2 linked regions of the Homo sapiens genome follow. The protein of the gene in region 1 interacts with the protein of each later gene in a pairwise test. Each region holds a gene or a part of one and is shown in the gene's direction. Other genes may lie near its edges. The genes, in order: E2F5 and RBL2.

Region 1 (4,486 bases):
TAAGAAATACTACTTGACAATAATCAATAAAATAAATTTGCAAAACTTGTCAATGATGTGTCCCATGTCAAATCAAATAAAGATAGCCTTTCTTGGATAGGTTGTTGGAAAATGGTTGTATCAACTGAATTTTTCATGTTTTACTTCAGATTTTCAATTTTAAGTTTTGTTTATAGATTTGATTAAAATAAAGGTTATTATGAATAGGTTATTAATAAAGGTTATAAAGTTCTGTGCCTATGATGTGTTATAAATGGTGTGTTCAGCTTTACTAGTTAATGCTGTTGTATTTGATGTCGCTTCAGTGACCTTTTTTGTTAGTTTATTGTTACTTAAAATTAAGCAAAATCTTTCTTGCATGAAATCTTCTTGATTAATTATTGCCATATAGAATTTTCATTCACCTAATCTTTTTTTTTTTTATTTGAGACAGAGTCTTGCTTTGTTGCCCAGGCTGAAGTGCAGTGGTGGCATCTCGGCTCACTGCAACACTGCAACGTCTGCCTCCTGGGTTTAAGAGATTCTCCTGCCTCAGGCTCTGGAGTAGCTGGGACTATAGGCGGGCACCACCACCCCCCGCTAATTTTTGTATTTTTAGTAGAGACGGGGTTTTACCATGTTGGCCAGGTTGGTCTCGAACTCCTGATCTCAAATGATCTGCCTGCCTCGGCCTCCCAAAGTGCTGGGATTACAGGCGTAAGCCACCGCGCCTGGTCTCATTCGCCTAATCTTTATTGTCTACTATATTCAAAGTGTTGAGTGTGACAACAAGTCATTTAAAATTTAGTCTGGATTCTCAAGAGTTTGTAATATAATGAGGAAAAAATCCCAACGACTTTCTTTTACTCAGATCTCCATAATGTCATTTGCCATCAATAGTTTGGAATATCACTGAAGTCCAAGGGCCTGTGGCTACCCAATATTCCAAATACAATATAATTTGGTTCAAATAAGATATTAAGAACTTTGGTCAAGAACTTTGGTCAAACACAGGAGATCTGGAATCTAACGGCATGTCTTTGGCAATTCACAACCTCTCCCTCTACACGTTTCTCCATGTAGAAAGTAAAGGCCTTGGAAAGGATTGATGAAAACCAACCCTAAAACTCCACGATGCCTTTTTCTGTACTCCGAATCTAAAAGGGTGAGCTATGAAGTAAAACTCTGCACTTGGTCCAAGTCATTGAAATATTTGCAAACGATGCTAGAGCTCGAAAAGAGCAAAGATAGCAGAAACCGTCCAGAGAAAGTAACCTACTGCTGAAGCTCTGCAAACTTGAGCAGTCAACCAACTTCACCGCTCACAAACGTTTGGCCGCTAGGCATTGTGACTTTCTGCCCAGATAAAAGTCTTTTTTTCTTTTGTCTCCTTTTTTTCTTCCTCCCTGCTTTGCCGCGTGAGATTACCACTCCTCGGGTCAGCTCGCGAACGCCAGGGAGGCGAGTGTGAAACACACGCGCCAACACCCCTCCTCCTCCTCGTGCGCTCCTCCTTCCTACAGAAAAATGTGTTTCTAGGCAACGGCGGGCGGCGGCGTCACTTCCTGCCATTTAAACTCAGGTCCCCACCCCTCGCAGCCCCTTCTCCTCGTTTCCACCCCTCCCCCCTCGGTCGTGGGCCTCATTCACGCTTCCCCGGGCTTGGGGAGGGGGCGGAGGCCCGGCGTGACAAGCGGCCCAGACTCCCGTGGGCGCCGCACACCTGTTGTTTGCAGCAGCCAGCGACCCGCACTACCGCTCTCGGCGGGCGGGGAAGCGGCCGCAGCGGAGCCGACCCGGCAGGTGGCCGCGGGCGGGGCCGGCGAGCGAAAGTGCGCGGGGGCCCGACCACCGCGGGGCCGGGACGCGATGGCGGCGGCAGAGCCCGCGAGCTCGGGCCAGCAGGCGCCGGCAGGGCAGGGGCAGGGCCAGCGGCCGCCGCCGCAGCCTCCGCAGGCGCAAGCCCCGCAGCCGCCCCCGCCGCCGCAGCTCGGGGGCGCCGGGGGCGGCAGCAGCAGGCACGAGAAGAGCCTGGGGCTGCTCACTACCAAGTTCGTGTCGCTGCTGCAGGAGGCCAAGGACGGCGTTCTGGATCTCAAAGCGGTGAGCTCCGGAGGCGGGGACGGGGGCGGACTTCGGAACCCGTGGCCCCCGGGGAAGCCCAGCCCCTCGCCGCGTGGGTCTAGCGGCGTGGTGTAGACGCGCCTTGCGGGGACCCGGGACCGGGCAATCCGAGGACCATGTGGCCTGCGCCCGGGTCGTGGACGCCGGGATGGGGGAGGGACGAGGGACCAGGATGGCACCGAGCGGACGCGTAACCAATGGGGCCCGGCGCCACGCTGGGCTCTCGACAAAGAGCCCAGGACCTCGAGCGCGCCCGCGTGGCTTCTGTCTCCGGGCGCAGGGACCTGAGGGTAACCGAGTGTCTGTTGCTCTGCGTCCACCTGTGGCAGAGGCTCACGGGGTAACGGGCGCTTTGCCCGGAGACACCGTGGATATCGATTTTGCTGTTAAGAATGGATGGTTTTAATAGGCGATTCCAGTTGGAACCATGTTCCTGTAGTTTAAATAAAAAGGAGGAAAAACAAAACCCAGTCTGCCATCTCTACCAGATGAAAGAAAAAAAAAAAAGAGTACTTCTTTCCACGCCCCTCCCCGATAAAATAGTATTAAATCTTCCTTGTGCACTTCTTTCATCACCCTGATAGTTAGGAGGGGTATTTGATTTGTGACTTCATTTGGCATGTGTCATGGGTTTCCAAAAGTGAGATCTGCTGTCACACGAAAAGGGGATATTTTACAACTTTCACCCAAAGAGGTGGAAGTGCTCAGTAAACTCTCTCCCTGCGTCGTCCTTTACAGCGTTCAGATTTTTCAAACAGGAGCAGGCATCAAAAGCTGTTCTGTCATACAGAATGACTTAACCGATCTAGGAAGGATTTGGAAGAATTCAACAGCGCTCAGGATAATGAGAATGTGGTCACTCCGCGCGAAGTTTAAGAACTAAAGTTTTAGAAACAAACAAACAAAAAACACTAACTGCCCAATAATCACTGCAAATCCCCTTTGACTCCCTAAATGTGGCCTTACTTGGAGGATTGGCCCCAGCTCCCAGGGGAGTGCCTGGACCACCTTACCTGGCTTGAGAGTGTCACTGCATCCTCAAGGCTCTGCATAAAGCAGTGGCAGCTCCCTGAATGTAAGGACCAAGACTTGCAGGGGCCAACTCTTCTGCTAGAGGCCCTCCTCCAGTGTAGCCCAAGGGGAAGTAGATCTTTTCAGTGCCCTCTCCTTTCCCTGGATGTAGTTGGTGTTCAATCAGTGATTGTTGAACTGAATTACCTAAATTGTTCAACTTCATACAACTGAGGCATGCTGCACATATTTTGCATTTTGGTAAGTAATTTCTACTATTTTCTTTTTGATATGTTATTCCTGGAATTTTTTTCCCACCTCTGGAAATTCCTTGTTCTCTTTTTTCCACCACAGCCCCTTCTTCCTTTCTCTCCCTGAAAGTGATTTATGGCATGTGTAGTATTTAAATTGTAGTGAATTAAAATGGATTCTGTTTAAAGAATTTCACAGGAAGTCATGAAGTTATCAGAGAAAGCCAGGAATGTTACAAAGCACAGGTGGCAAACTGCTGTTCAAAATCTAGAAATTCAGCTGTAGCCTGTGACTTTGGTGTAAGAAAATCAGGGAAGTTTGGGGTTTTCCAGGTAAAACTGAACTCTGACGGCTGGACTTTGAGGGCTTCTCCCTCAGCTTGCCTCAGGATATGGTGGAACTTTGCCCTTTCTTGACTTGAAATTCTTTAGCTTCCTCCTGTTTCATCTGTGGCTATATAATTGCCCTACAGAAGTCACAGAGGCAGTGAGTAGGATGTAAAGTTTGGTATTTCATGACAATAATTGCTTTATTCATTCTGGAACTCTCCTAAAAATTCAAAGGTTTCTACAATAACACTGTCTCATTATATTAATGACTTCATACTCCTAGAAAAGAGTTTGAATGTCTTTAGTTTTCATATATATGTATGAAAAACATATGTTTTATGTATTTTACGTATATTTTTCATTTATTTATATATACTTATATATGTAAAAATCTTTTTTTTTTCTTTTTTGAGACGGAGTCTTGCTCTGTCGCCCAGGCTGGAGTGCAGTGGCGCGATCTGGGCTCACTGCAAGCTCCGCCTCCCGGGTTCACGCCATTCTCCTGTGTCAGCCTCCCGAGTAGCTCGGACTACAGGCGCCCGCCAGCGCACCCAGCTAATTTTTTTGTAATTTTAGTAGAGACAGGGTTTCACTGTGTTAGCTAGGATGGTCTCGATCTCCTGACCTTGTGATCCACGCGCCTCGGCCTCCCAAAGTGCTGGGATTACAGGCGTGAGCCACCGCGCCCGGCCAAAAATCTTACATTGAAATCTTTCCAATGATATTTCTTATTATACACCATAGTAAAAGATCGTTAAAGCCTTTTTTTTTTGAGACTGAGTCTTGCTCTG
Region 2 (3,158 bases), on another chromosome or scaffold:
AAAAAAAAAAAAAAATGAAAAACACTTGTGAAGGTACATCTGTTGATAATAAAGAACACTGATTTTCATTAAAACCCCCAAAACATTTATTACTTTAAAGAATAAAAATAACAAGTGTCATGATAAAATATGTCTGGGATTTGTTTTAAAATAATCTGGGGAATGGAAGTGAATCAGAGTATAAATCAAACAAGGCTGGCCAAACATGCTGAAGTAGAGGAATAGGTATGTGAGGATGCATTATGCTTCTCTACTTTTGTATGTTTACAATTTCCTATAATAGATATCTGTGAATTTGCTTAGTATGCTTTCTGTAAGCAAACATGGATGAAGCAGCACATGAAAAAGAATTTTAACCAACAAACTAGCAGAAAATAATGTGACAGACGACTTTTAGAGGCTTTGGAGAAACTGAATGCTAAAGGTGCTGTACAGCCAGCCCCAGTCTTTCTGACATTCTGGCAGTGTCTTTCTCAATTGCAGCTCCTCATCTGAGCCACTGTCCAGAAAATAATTTGAGTAACTTTAATCCTCAATTCTCCCAAGGATAGTACCATTCTAGATCTTACTAATTTATTAGCTACAATGGATACCTTAGGGGGGGATTAAGGCCTACTTTTCTAGTGAAATCCCAGTTGAGAATGGCTGCTAAAAACTGAGTAACATTAGACTGAAAAAAAGGGAATATTGTATAAAGTTGTACTTTAAAAAAGAGAAAAAGATGTGTCTAAGTGACTATCAGATAGCAATGTAATGCTCCCTAATTGTAAAAAAAATCACAAATTTGTGAACTCACAAATTATAGACATGTATAATTGACCTACAGGTCAAAAGTGCCTGTGGAAGAGCTTGTTAAAAATAGAACTACTCAGCCCCTTCTCAAATAGCCATCGGCCTCAGCCAGCTGAAAAGTAAAGTTGGCAGGTTATGTAACTTAGTGTTTCTTTTCTCTGTAGATGTGTTCAAACTCTTCCAGGGTAAACTGCTTAACTCATTTGAGATTCTTTGACTTAATACTGAGCTATGTGCATTTGCATTTTAAAATTTTTGTATCTTTTTCCCACCATAGAGACTGAGAGAAATTAATAGTATGATACGCACAGGAGAAACTCCTACTAAAAAGAGAGGAATTCTTTTGGAAGATGGAAGTGAATCACCTGCAAAAAGAATTTGCCCAGAAAATCATTCTGCCTTATTACGCCGTCTCCAAGATGTAGCTAATGACCGTGGTTCCCACTGAGGTTAGTCTCTTGTATTAAACTCTTCACAAAATCTGTTTAGCAGCAGCCTTTAATGCATCTAGATTATGGAGCTTTTTTCCTTAATCCAGCTGATGAGTTACAGCCTGTTAGTAACATGAGGGGACATTTTGGTGAGAAATGGGACTTAACTCCTTCCAGTGTCCTTAGAACATTTTAATTCATCCCAACTGTCTTTTTTTCCCTACCATTCAGTGATTACTGTCAAGGCTGCTTAGAATCCAAACTTGGATTTTTGACTCTGGCAAAGCTTTTAGAAATACTGCAAGAAAATGATGTGTACCCAAACGTGAGCATAGGAGGCTTCTGTTGACGTACTCCAACAGAAGAACTGTGTTTCAAGTTCAATCCTACCTGTTTTGTGGTCAGCTGTAGTCCTCATAAAAAGCAAAACAAAAATTAGGTATTTTGTCCTAAAACACCTGGTAGGAGTGTGTGATTTTTTGCATTCCTGACAAAGGAGAGCACACCCAGGTTTGGAGGTCCTAGGTCATTAGCCCTCGTCTCCCGTTCCCTTTGTGCACATCTTCCCTCTCCCCATTCGGTGTGGTGCAGTGTGAAAAGTCCTTGATTGTTCGGGTGTGCAATGTCTGAGTGAACCTGTATAAGTGGAGGCACTTTAGGGCTGTAAAATGCATGATTTTGTAACCCAGATTTTGCTGTATATTTGTGATAGCACTTTCTACAATGTGAACTTTATTAAATACAAAACTTCCAGGCTAAACATCCAATATTTTCTTTAATGCTTTTATATTTTTTTAAAATGTTAAAACCCCTATAGCCACCTTTTGGGAATGTTTTAAATTCTCCAGTTTTTTGTTATATAGGGATCAACCAGCTAAGAAAAGATTTTAATCAAGTTGAATTGAGGGGATTAATATGAAAACTTATGACCTCTTCCTTTAGGAGGGAGTTATCTAAAAGAAATGTCTATTAAGGTGATATATTTAAAAATATTTTTGGGTGTTCCTGGCAGTTTAAAAAAATTGGTTGGAGAATTTAGGTTTTTATTAGTACCATAGTACCATTTATACAAATTAGAAAATGTTATTTAACAGCTGAATTATCTATACATATCTTTATTAATCACTATTGTTCCAGCAGTTTTCAAGTCAAATTAATAATCTTATTAGGGAGAAAATTCAATTGTAAATTGAATCAGTATAAACAAAGTTACTAGGTAACTTCATATTGCTGAGAGAAATATGGAACTTACATTGTTCAATTAGAATAGTGTTCTGCAAAAATATTTATAAAACTTCTCAAGATACTGCTACTGTAATTTTATATGAAGATAAGTGTATTTTTCAATAAAGCATTTATAAATTAGCCTTTGTTTGGTTATATTGAGAAAAGGGTAGTTTCCTGCATAAATGGCAAAGAACAATCATTTATTGGTTTATTTTGTCTCTACTAAACACATTAGTCATTTATCATTTAAATACCGGACTTCATTAGAAACCGTTGTAACACTTTTTCTCCCTCCTGCCATAAAAATACAGTAAGTAATTTGCTTAAAAAAAACAACACAACACTAGGAACAAGTGTTCTGGTTTCTTCTCACTGAACTAAAGACATTTCTCAGTGATTTCAGTTTGTAAATCAGTAAGACAGTGCAGGCTACAAATCAGTGCAGGCTGAAGACTGAGATTCAAATGATCTTCCACTTAAAAGTGCTGAGCTATGGAACCTGCTCTCTCTATACCTCTCCATTTCCTAACATATATACAACTGAAACCACTGATTTATAAACTATTAAGTAGTGCTGAATTCTGTCTGCTCTATTAGTTTAAATGAATGCAACTTACCTTTAGCATTATATTCAGAAAAATACTTACTTAAGCCTCAAGGTCCCCAATAATTTGGAGTACTGAACTAGATAACCACCCTAAGACACTT

Evidence for each region.
Region 2: the proteins of E2F5 (region 1) and RBL2 interact in a two-hybrid assay, tested with the Homo sapiens proteins (one study listed by BioGRID).

Annotation. Positions count from the first base shown.
Region 1 is NC_000008.11:85,175,573-85,180,058, forward strand, and holds the start of E2F5 (transcription factor E2F5), read left to right. Parts: upstream 1-1,581; 5' UTR 1,582-1,848; coding exon 1,849-2,082; intron 2,083-4,486.
Region 2 is NC_000016.10:53,489,061-53,492,218, forward strand, and holds the end of RBL2 (retinoblastoma-like protein 2), read left to right. Parts: intron 1-1,069; coding exon 1,070-1,240; 3' UTR 1,241-2,588; downstream 2,589-3,158. UniProt on the Homo sapiens protein: Key regulator of entry into cell division. Directly involved in heterochromatin formation by maintaining overall chromatin structure and, in particular, that of constitutive heterochromatin by stabilizing histone methylation.